Linked DNA regions of Homo sapiens: all the other regions are linked to region 1. Evidence: fine-mapped expression QTL. A gene starts in region 1. Each other region holds a variant in brackets. All regions are shown on one strand. Distances are from middle to middle.

Region 1 (2,683 bases):
TCCAGATGATTCCAAAATTGACATCCCTTGCCTCAGTCTCTCCTATGAACTCCAGAATCACCCTTCCAATTGCATTTGCTGGATATCTGCCCCTGGAAGAAGGTGGCCTGCTTCTCCAATCCAACTTGCTCCACACTAAACTCAGTCACATCACTCCAGGTTCTCCTCCAGACTTCCACAATGTTACAGCCCCAGTGTGCTCCTCCTACACCACACAGTCTGTAGACTCTCCTTTGCTGCAGCTTCCGCATTCATCCCCCAGTTAAGGTCCTCATCTCACGGGACTATTGGAATCATCTCCTTCCTGTGTGGCCCCCCGCGAAGCCCTTCTCAGCAGCCAGCTGGGGTATTTAGAACGTTGGTGCTCCCGGTACAGTGGCTTTGTCAGCGTCCCCTGCCTCCAGTGGCTTCCCTGATCTAGCAACCTGGTAAATGGGTAATCTTCCTCACTGCAGCTAAGTTTCAAAAGAACACGGTTGGATAAGCACAAGGCCCTTGTTACTTTGGGAAATAGATAATCCATGCCCCACTGTTAGGGCCAGTCCCGTTAGGGCCAGCTTTGCACCTTCACAGGGACTCAGCAGGAACAGATGGGCTCTACTCTCTGTTATTCCTTTTTGCTTCAGATTAGAGAGACCTTGATTCTCCCCGGGGCCCAGGAAATGTAAAGCTGATGCTCCACAGGACTCTAAGAGGGACACGGCAGTGATGGGGGCTGGTGAGGAAGGGGGATGGAGAACCTCTCTCTTATCAGACAGGCTTGTCCCTAGGGTCCCTGGAAACCCCCAAAGGCCAACCTCTCCCAGGGGCCGACAAACGTAAAGGGCAGGGAGACCTAAGCGGGGAGCTGCGGAGCGCGGGGAGTTTGAAAGCCGCTCCACCGCCCTACTAGTCCGTCCTTTTGCCCCGCCCCCCTTAGGGATCCCCCCGGCAACCGCACAGCTGCCTCGGACTCTGACTTAATTCCCTCCGCGTGCTCTGAATCGCAGAGAGGCAAACCCCCAAACAAAGAGCCGGCAGCTCGCGTGCGGGGCTCCCGGGCGCGTCCTGCCGGCTGGGCTGGGAGAGCCGGCGCCGGGGCGTCGCGGCCGAGCGCTGGGCAGGCGGGGACTAGAGGGCCGGCAGGAAGCCTCAGTGGGCGCAGGGGCGCGGGCCGGGCTGCCCACACGCTGACCTTCCCGGGCTGGGAGGGAGGAGCGCTGGCTGCGGGCGGTGGGCGGCTGGGCGGCCCCGGGAGCCGCCGCTCTCAGTCTCTCTAGGCGCAGCTCCCTTCGCCGCTTCCGGAGCCCCTGGCAGGGTAAGTGCAGAAGCGCGCCCGAGGAGTGGGGGCGCCGCGGGAGGGGGCTGGGGGTCCAGGAGAGGCGCCTCCACCTCCGCTGCCCGCCCCGCCGGCAGTCCCGAGCTAGACTGTCCCGAGCTTCCCCCGGGCGGGCAGAGGGAAGCCGGCTGGGGATGAGGAGTGGAGGAGGCAGGAATGCCTGGGACACTCGCGGGGCATGTGAGCAGGTATTGGTGTCTGCATGGGACACGCAACACGGTGTCCATAACTATGCGCATGAGTCTGCCTTTCTGCACTTGTGCCTTGGGAGAGAGCTCTGGGCCTCTGAGGGCCTCGTGCCGTCCAGCGTGCCCGGGGCATGTCTGTTCCTCTTGAAAATGTCATTCTTTGTCCACCCTGAATTCGAGTAGCTGCCTCTCATGGCTACACCAAAATGCTGTATCTGGTGCACATTGCTTTCAGAGGGCCTGTCTGCCTGTGCAGGGATGTCCTCATGTTCTGGGCACGTCTGTGTATTTGTGACAACATGGCTGTGTAGGCCCTGTCACCTGTGTTTTCGTGCCCATCCCTGCATGTGCAGTTGGCCGGCTCCGTGTGGAAAGAAGGCATGGAAGGTTCTGGGGTGTATCCTTTTCACCAGCCATATGTGCAGTGTGCACATGTGTGAATTGGTGGAAAGTATGAAAGGGAGGCAGCCCAGTTGGGCTTGGCGGGACAGCATCTTAACTTGAGTCTAAGCTGCTGTGTGCAGGAGGAATAAGTGTTCCAGAGGTCTCCAGTTCGTGGCAAGTATTGTGAGGTGAGCGTGGGGGTGGGGGGTGAGGAGAAGAGGCAGCTTCTGGAAAAACTCATAAGTGCACTCTGGGGCATAGGGTGTGTGTGGGGGAGCGTGAAGAAGAGAATGAGGGTGGTATTAGGCCAAAGTGGATAGTCTGTGTTCAATTTGTGGGCAGCTGGATTGCAGTGGAAAGCAGCAGTTAGAGGCTGGAGACAGGTTTGAATCAGAACTTAATGGTTGTCACTGTGTCAGTAGCATTGTTCCCTGGACAGATAGGTCATCTGGGGCTCAGTTGCTTTTTGTGCAAAATGGGACTAATAACCACTGGCCCCATCTGTCTCCCAAGGGACTGGAGGCTCCAATTAATGCCTGGAAATGCTTTGATGATAGTTAAGACTCCTAGGGTAAGGGGCACTACTGGCCTACAGGGGCCAAGTTGGTGGTCTGGCGAGGGCTTAGGTGGCCCAGAGCTGTTTGGTTTGTGGGTAGCAGAGGGAGGCATTTGTGTGCTGTTTCCCACTATATTCAGCATAGCAGGAATTTTATACCCACCTTTGGACTCGTGTGTAAAATATGTACAGGCCTGTGTGATTCCCCATAGTTCTTGTGTGAGTGCTGCAGAACAA
Region 2 (2,683 bases), 63 kb before region 1:
TATAATCTTTGTGCTCTCACTGCAATTCCTTTGGGTTCCATGTTTTGTTTCCATCCATGCCTAGCTGGATTGCAAAGTTAAGTTTATAATTATGAAATAAAAACTAAATAACAAAAATAATAATAATAATGCAACCTCAACATTGAGTACCTCAGGGAGGTGTGGTTGAAGGGGTAAGGGGGTGGCCTTCCAGCTTAACACTTAAAATGTTAGAACAAGAATACTTCATTTTCATAATCTAAAAGAAAAAAGAAGACCTTTATTTTTGTCTACTTTGGACACAGTAGGAGGTGAGTAAATGTTTGCTGAATTGAATCAAATTGAACCTACTGAATCTCCCCGTCCGCTGGGACACTAGCTGGGCAGGCTGCCCAGAAGCAGGAATGCAGAGCCTGTGCGTCCAAAGATAAAGTATCGCTCTGCCACAGAGGCTGAGGCATCCCTGGAGAGAAAGAACAGCCTTGCCTGCTAGATTCATTTCTACCATCACCCAGGCCTCCATCCTTACTGGGAGATGCTGGAAATAGCTTCACCTTGCTTCTTAACTGACTCATGGCTTTTGCGTTTCCAGGCAGCAAAATCATATTAGCAGCCCCAAAACCCAATAAGGACCATGTACCCAGTCAAAACTTCTCAACACAAAAGGAGACAAGTAAGACTGGTCAGCTGCATTCTGGTCTCCTCTTAGAAAAATCACTGGTGGCATGAAATCTTTAGTTTATTAACAGACATCTCCTGCATTCTGACAATAGTAGCTCATTCAAAAACAAAAAAAGAAGAAGAAAGCAAATGGTGACCCAGGTTCTGAGGGATGAAACCAAAATTTTATCACAGTAGCTCAGCGCCTGGCTCACTTGGGGCTGCTGGGCAGTGAAAAGATGGAGAACTTTTGACTTTCCAAGGCATGGACTTGAAAGTCACCCACTGTTTCTGTGGTTACTGTATTAAGGCGTTTTAAAAGCAAGTGAGTGCCAAAGATGAAGGTGATGGAGATGCGCAACAAGAAAAGCTGAATCTTTCTCCAGGACTTAGATGAACTCAGTGTGTAACTGGATCCTAACCATCTTCACACAGTCAGGATGGGGAGGGGGATATTTTTACTTATTTTATAAGTAGGTGAGCAGAGCCTGAGGCACCCAGTAACATTCACGCAAAGTCACAGGGCAACTGAGGCCAAGCCTTCACCCAACCTCATCACAGGTGTGAACTCTCCATTCTGAACACATGCCATCCTCCCCTAACCCCCAAAATCATTCCTCCTAAGGAGGAATAAATTGGATATTGGGCCTCAGTTTCTTTGCGGATGCAGGGTGTCATCCAGGACCAATCCTTCATTTTCCTGCAGATGAAATACATCAAGCTTAACTCCCATCCTAGGACTAGGAAAGGACTCACAAGCCTGTGTGGTTCAGAGAAGGCGCAGATCAAAGCACATGACATTGTCATTTCTACAGCCATATGGCACTTGACAGATTTAAAAGCATTTATGC[A/G]CGTTTAACTTCATGAACCTCACAACCTATCCCCCCTTCCCTTGAGTAGGCAGGACTGGCCTAATTTTTCCTGTTTAATAGCAGAGACTCAAACAGCTGGGAACAGGCAGAGTAAAGACAAGAAAGTCTTCTATTCCCCAATCCAATGCTCTTTCTGCAGTGCTTAAAGAGCAAAGCAAAGCAAACTTCTCCAGAGATGCCTCTGCCTCATGACCTTTGCCTGGCCTGAAAGTGAAGAATTCCACTGGGCTACAGTAGTCAAGCACCCTGTTGGGAACATTTCCTCCTGAGCCCCCCCAGTCAGTCCTGCCTTTTAATCATGGCCTCATGTAAACCCTTGCACCCTGTGGGAGTCTCAGCTGGGATCTGAGTTTTTTAAAAAATGGGGCTTCATCCATGTTCACCGTCCCCCACAACACACACGTCCCCTGAACACACATCCTGATCAGTGGCTTCTGGGCACCAGTGTCTGGAAATAACCCCTGCCCTCAGCTTCTTTTTCTGGGAAGCTCCTTCTGTAACTTGCTATATCAACCGTCTCCCATTGTGAGAGGGAAAAGACTGAAGAATCTGTAGGGTATCTGGACAGAGTGCCATTTTATGGTATGTGTGTTTAAATAGCTTTTGCTCCCTGATTTTATGTTGCTTAAGGTTATGTTGAAATTAGCATGTCTAGGAAATAGCAGTGAGGAAAGGTGGCCCAGAAACCTTTTTTAGATAGCATGAAGAATGTTGGCCTGCTTTTAATTCTGTGCATGTGGATATATAACAGTGAATGGGAATTGATAAAATCTGCATTTCCCTACTATCTTTTCTTGCTTGTGCCTAGTAACCCTCAGAGAATGGGGTCAATGTAGGAGCCTCTCGGGAGCACCTCAGTGTTAGCCTTCTCTCTTTTCTGAGCAACCTTACTCTGGGTTACTCAACAGTCCCAAAAGATTTTAATGATGGTGGTTTCCTTCTTAACAACTGAACCTCCAATTCAGAAAGCTCAGCTTTCTCCTCTCTGGGTCATGGCAGATGATCTCACAGTTGTGTGCAAGCCCCATCATTTTTCCCTTCATCTCCCCTTCCCACTCCTACCCACAGGGACCCACTCAAATGTCCTTTCACTGAAGAATACCTAACATTTTTGAGAATGTATGTGCTTTTATTTAATAAGAGTGATATTGGGTTATATATCTCACTTTTTC
Region 3 (2,683 bases), 49 kb after region 1:
AAATTTAACTAAGGTAACTGTGCTATGCTACTCTCAGATCAGAAAAAGATTAAGCTACTGCCCGCAGCATGGGGCTGGTTATGCTCCAGCCAGTTTCTGCTGTCTCATAGGTGTACTTTATTAGAAAGTGCACTCCTGCGTCTTTATCAGGGGATGTCTGCTAAGCGTTATGTCTAGACCCAGCACCATACCAGGCACTGTGGAGGAGCCAGAAGCAACCTCAGATGTGGTCCCTGTTTCTCCGAAGCTCACAGTCATGCTAGGGGACAGAGTGGTAACACCTGAAGCAAGAGCAGTGCTACGGAGCAATGGGTAAAGTTGTGTCACTCATCCGGTGATGACCTACACTGAGGAACCGCACGGCAGGCGAAGGGGAGGGACACAGAGGTGAAGCCCAGTCCAGCTGAGGAGAGAAGGGCAAAGCAGAGAGTGCAGGTGTCAGGAGACAGCAGATGACGCGCTGCAGGCATTCAGACGGTGGGGAGTGGCAGTTGCTCCTGCCCAAGGATAGCCTGGTGGAGCCAAGACTGAGCCGAGCTGGGTGTGGAAGGACAGGTAGGCACCAGCATTCCAGGCAGGGGGACAGGCAGGGCAAAGGCCCAAAGGCTGGACGCTTGGCCTGTGTGAAGAGAACTGTGTGCAGCAACACCAGGAACACTTTTCAGCTTTGCACACAGAGCCAGCGTGTGCCGCAGGGGCCCTGAGATGATCGCGCCGGACCCAGGGAGTCAGGAAAGGCTGGGTAAGGTGCAGGGTGGAGGGGCAGAGGTGACAGGTCTGTCAGAGCCCATGACCTCACCCGGCTGAAGTCCCAGCATCTTGATGAGGGACCCTTTGCCTGCCTCCTGGGCCTGTCACACACCTGTCCAGGTGAGTCACACACCCGCAGCCTCCCTGCTGTGGAAGCTGCTGCCTGGAGCCAGCACCTGTGCCCACCAGCACCCGGCCTCAGTCCCCTTGAAGCCCCAGGCCAGGCCCTCACTCCCCTTCCAGGCATCTTAACACACTGGAGCTCGAGAAGGCTATCCCCACACACCACCGCCACTGCCAAGCTCTCTCCCCTCCTCCTGACCACTCCGCAGGTCAGATAGCCTGTTTGATGCCTCTGAACCAGCCTGTGCAGGGGTAGCATGTACTAATTTAGCCAGCCACTAAACCAATGGGTGAGGTTCAGTATCTCTACCTCCCCATCCTCCCTGTTCCCCACCCCGTCTTCAATAGTAACTGGGGCAGTGGCTTCCCCCGAGAAGTGGCGTGACACTGCCAGCTATCCAGGAGTATCCTACGGGCCTGACTCACAGCTCACAGTGGTGGTGGAGAGAAGGAAGGTGGAGAGATGCCAGGATGTGGCTCTCCTAGCTGCCAGCAGCCTGGGTGCTCCTGTCAGGGGCACTCCATCACCTCTTCCTCCCATGCCCCAGAGGTCTCTGGGAGCCACTGGCATCAATGCCTTCAGGTCCTGTGCAGCAGGAGGGATCCGGCCTCAGCACCGTAGCTGAGGATGGTGGAGGGAAGTTTGGAGCAGGCAGGAAGGGCACGCATGTCAGAAAGGAGCCGC[A/G]GGGCCCAGCAGCGCATGGCAGGGGAGAGCCCCTGAGTCAAGGAGACTCAGAAACAAGGATGCCTCACCCTGGGTGGGGTGAGGGTGAATGTGTAGCCATGCTCTGTCTGATGGGCCGGGCTTCTCCCAGGGGGATCACACTCTGGCATGGGCTGGCTACGCCTGCCTCTGGCTGACAGGGACCGTACCCCTCATGCTGTGGGACCTGGAGCTCTGGGAGGGCAGGAGGCGGGTTAGATCACTGGAAAGTACATTTCCCCCTCGTTGGGTCCTCCTTGTCCCTAAACTTTGCGTCCTACACGAGGGGACCAAAGAAGGCTGAAATCCAGCCCATGCAACTCTTGCTGAGCCACGTTTTTCTAATTTGCACCTAAGCACTAGCAGCCATCCAGCTAGAGCCAGCATGTGGTGGAGCCTGGACCCAACCCAAGTCCACTGACATTTCCCCCAGCTTTCCTCAGTGTTTGGGCCCTGCTTCTCAGAGGCTCCTCAAGCAGGAGGACCATCCACAGACGCTCTCTTCAGCCTCCTGCCTCAGCTTACCCTGCATACCACTCAGTACCACACGCAGACCCAGGCCCCTGTCCTGAGGCCCCCTTCAACCACACTCCTCCCCAGGGAGTGGAAAGTCCGTAGGGCAGAGGGAACATCCCCTTGTGGAATCTGCAACTCCCTCCCGCCACTTCCTGACCTCCTCCCAGGGACCCAGGAGAGTGAATCCTCTGTCCAGACAACCTGTGCCTGCAGGCAGCATCTGCAAGCATGTCCTGAGGCTGACTAGACCCCTGGCATATGTGCCCCTAGCCTGCACCACACCCAGCCCTCTCCACACACCTCCCATCCCGCAAGGGGCATCTGACCCTGGGGGAGGGGCACACAGAGCTGGAGGTTTTTCCTGATGCAGCGAAGAGCCTGGGGTAGGAAAGGAAGGGGCAGGGACCTTGCATTTGTGCTCTTGGCCTCAGGCCCCACAAATGATGGGGCTAGGCCTGACACTGTTATTCTGAGACTGGAAACTCTGTGTCCCTGATGCTGGGAGCCTATAGGACACAGTAAAATTGCAATGAGGAGGTGGGTAATGCACTTCATTTGAAAGGAAACCTTGCTCTTGGACCACAGTTCTTT
Region 4 (2,683 bases), 26 kb after region 1:
GAATCCTGGCTATACCTAGCAGGACAGGAGGCTGGGAAATGTTGTCTGTTCCAGGTGACTAAGTATCTAACTAAAATTGAGAAGTTCTATTCTAACAAATATTCTAACAAATATTAGGGGAACCAGCAGTCTCTGGTCGCTCCCCTTCCTCCTTTGCCCTGGTAGATCTGGTCCTGTGAGTATTGCACAGTGGGTAAAAGCTTGAGCCCAGAGGCAGAGATTCTTTATTCAGCTCTGGCTTTGTCATGTACTTGCTATGTGACTTTGGATGAATTATTTAACCTGTCTAAACCTCGATTATATTATGAAATGGAAATAACCCTATTTCATAGGGGTATTGGGAAGATGGACCGAAATAATGAGTGTAAAGCACTTAGTTCTGTACCTGGCACATAGTAAGTGTTCCATAAATACTAGCTACACAGGGAGGTTAAATAACTTGCCCAAGGTCACACAGCCAGTAAAATGGCAAAGCTAGCTTTCAGATCCAGTCATCTGGCTGCAGGCTGGTACTGACACTTCTTTGGAGCCTCTGCCACCCTGGGCCCCAAATATGGTGTTAGGGGAAAGGAGCACTGAATGGTGGAGAATAGGAAACTCAACTACAGATTAGCCATGTGACCTTAGAAAAGTCATTTTTAAATATGCATCTTAAATATGTAAAATTCCTCATTCTTTCTGCAGAAGATTGAATTAAGTGAGCCCAAAGGTTTCCCCTGACCCTGACATTTTGTGGTTCTATTTTCCCCACCACTAATGACTGAAATTTTACCATTAGAATGGTTTCTTTTCCTTAAGCCTTGTCTTCTGCCTGAAGTTCTTTTTAAAAAATACAATTTTCCTTTAGAGGGCAGGGCCCTGACTCTGTGGTTTGAGTGAGTGAATCAGGCCTCTTTGCTGCAAGTAGAGAGAAAGCTCTGGGGCAGAAGTCCAGTGGCCCTGCCTGGGAGGGGAGGGAGACTGCAGACAGGAGTGGCCAGGCCCCACAAACTCTGCCACTTGCTAAGGGCCTGCGGTGGCCCAGGAGACGCTGCACCTGGTCTCTTGTCAGGACTGACTGCATAATGGCCGTGAAATCGCTCCCATTAGATCCCCTGGCCGACCCCATCCACGGACATTTCTTACAGGCTTCCTTTTTTTCTCCTTTTATATTTATTCCACCACCCTACCTCGAAAACTGAATTGGAGAAAAATGAGTTTTGTGTTTTCTTAACGAGAAGACTAGCAGTCTTAAATTACCTTCTTCAA[C/T]GTCTGCAAATAGAAATCACAAATAAGTCAGCCACATTGTCTTTTCCCTCTTCCTTTCTTCCTGTCTCAGTGAGCCCATGAGCTTGAAATAAGAGGCAGAACAGTGGCTCAGAGGAAATAATTGGGGCGTGGTCACGCACCAGCCCAGGAGGCAAGAATAGGATGAAAGGATGGTCCAGTTGGGGGTTGGAAATAATGGAGGAAGAGATGGAAATGCTAAATTCCCCTGGCCCGGCATGTGTGTCTTCTCTGCAGGCCCAGCAGCCATGGTCCATTATAAGACTGAACAGGACGACTGGCTGATCGTCTGCCTGAATAAGCATAAGCCATGCCTCATTGCTTATGGTTCTGAAATAAAAAGAGGTTCCCAAAATGGGGGTAATTTCTTAAAGAGCAACTACTCTGTGAGTGTGGGTGTGCAGGTGCCCAGGGGCACATGCAGCTCGAGGAGAAGAGGAAACTACAAAGGCTTCAGACTTTCTGAGGTTCAGACTGAGAAGCAAACAGGATTACCAGGCACAGTAGGCCCTCTCTGCCTGTATCACCACCATTGATGTCATACTTCCCAGAGAGTCCATCAGTGGGCATCAGAGCGAGGGACAGCATGGTGCTGGGGTAAAGACGGGAGTTTTAGGACTAGAGTCTTAGGCTCTAGCCCCAGTTCTTTGACATGTAATAATAGCTAACATTGAACACTTATTACATGCCAAGGACTATGTTAAACACTTCACATAGATTATTTCATTTAATCTTCAAAACAACCCTATGATATATGTGTCATTATTATCCCCATTTACAGATGAGAATGCTGAGGGATGGGAGGTCATGTAACTTGCCCAAAGTATCACACATCTTGTGACAGATCAGGGTGTGAACCCAGAGAGTCAGACTCCAGAGGCTCTTGTGCTTCTTCCTGCCAAACCACCAGGCCTGTCTGGGCCTGCTTCCTCATCTGAAAAGTCAAGCTGCAGCGGCCAGGTGGGGTGGACTGGGTGATCACTGGGGCCCTTTCCAACACAGGTGCTCTGCTCTGGGGCTCAGGCCACACCTGTGGATGCAGAGTCCTGTTCAAATGATGCAGAGTGCAAGTTTCCTATGCAAAGTAGTGATGCTGAGTGTGTGTGTGCGTGTAGGACAGGTAAACTTGTGTCCTGCAACCCTGGTGAGACAGGAAAAGAGATTAAGAACACAGTAAGACCAGCGCAAATTCTGTGGGAGACTTGTAGGTTAGACCTTTGTCAAGAGGACAAAACTGACATCTAAAGGTCTGGAAGATTCTGCCCCAATTCACCTCTATTTGGTCTCCTTAGCAATTCCCACATCTTTGCTCCATGCTGCACATGCAGAGCCTCAAAGCCCCCGGCAGATAGGTTAATGAGCCCTTTGAAGGGAGCCTTGCCAAGATGCTCTGGCTCTGGGAAGGACAAGGTGGTTC

Evidence for each region.
Region 2: its variant is fine-mapped to the expression of TSPAN11 in spleen (GTEx, PIP above 0.99).
Region 3: its variant is fine-mapped to the expression of TSPAN11 in prefrontal cortex (GTEx, PIP above 0.99).
Region 4: its variant is fine-mapped to the expression of TSPAN11 in nasal epithelium (TOPMed, PIP above 0.99).

What each region holds. Positions count from the first base shown.
Region 1 is chr12:30,925,500-30,928,182 of GRCh38, forward strand. TSPAN11 (tetraspanin 11) reads left to right here and starts at 1,249. Exons shown (of 8, transcript NM_001370302.1): 1 at 1,249-1,297. LOC124902911 (a long non-coding RNA gene) reads right to left here and starts at 1,190. Exons shown (of 2, transcript XR_007063264.1): 1 at 1-1,190.
Region 2 is chr12:30,862,275-30,864,957 of GRCh38, forward strand. No RefSeq gene overlaps it. Among named protein-coding and RNA genes, the nearest start is that of TSPAN11, 63 kb to the right of the region's middle. The variant A/G (reference allele first, on the strand shown) is at 1,491.
Region 3 is chr12:30,974,453-30,977,135 of GRCh38, forward strand. All of the region lies in intron 3 of TSPAN11 (tetraspanin 11), which reads left to right. Among named protein-coding and RNA genes, the nearest start is that of TSPAN11-AS1, 30 kb to the right of the region's middle. The variant A/G (reference allele first, on the strand shown) is at 1,559.
Region 4 is chr12:30,951,258-30,953,940 of GRCh38, forward strand. The region is part of intron 1 of TSPAN11 (tetraspanin 11); the gene reads left to right. Among named protein-coding and RNA genes, the nearest start is that of TSPAN11, 26 kb to the left of the region's middle. The variant C/T (reference allele first, on the strand shown) is at 1,249.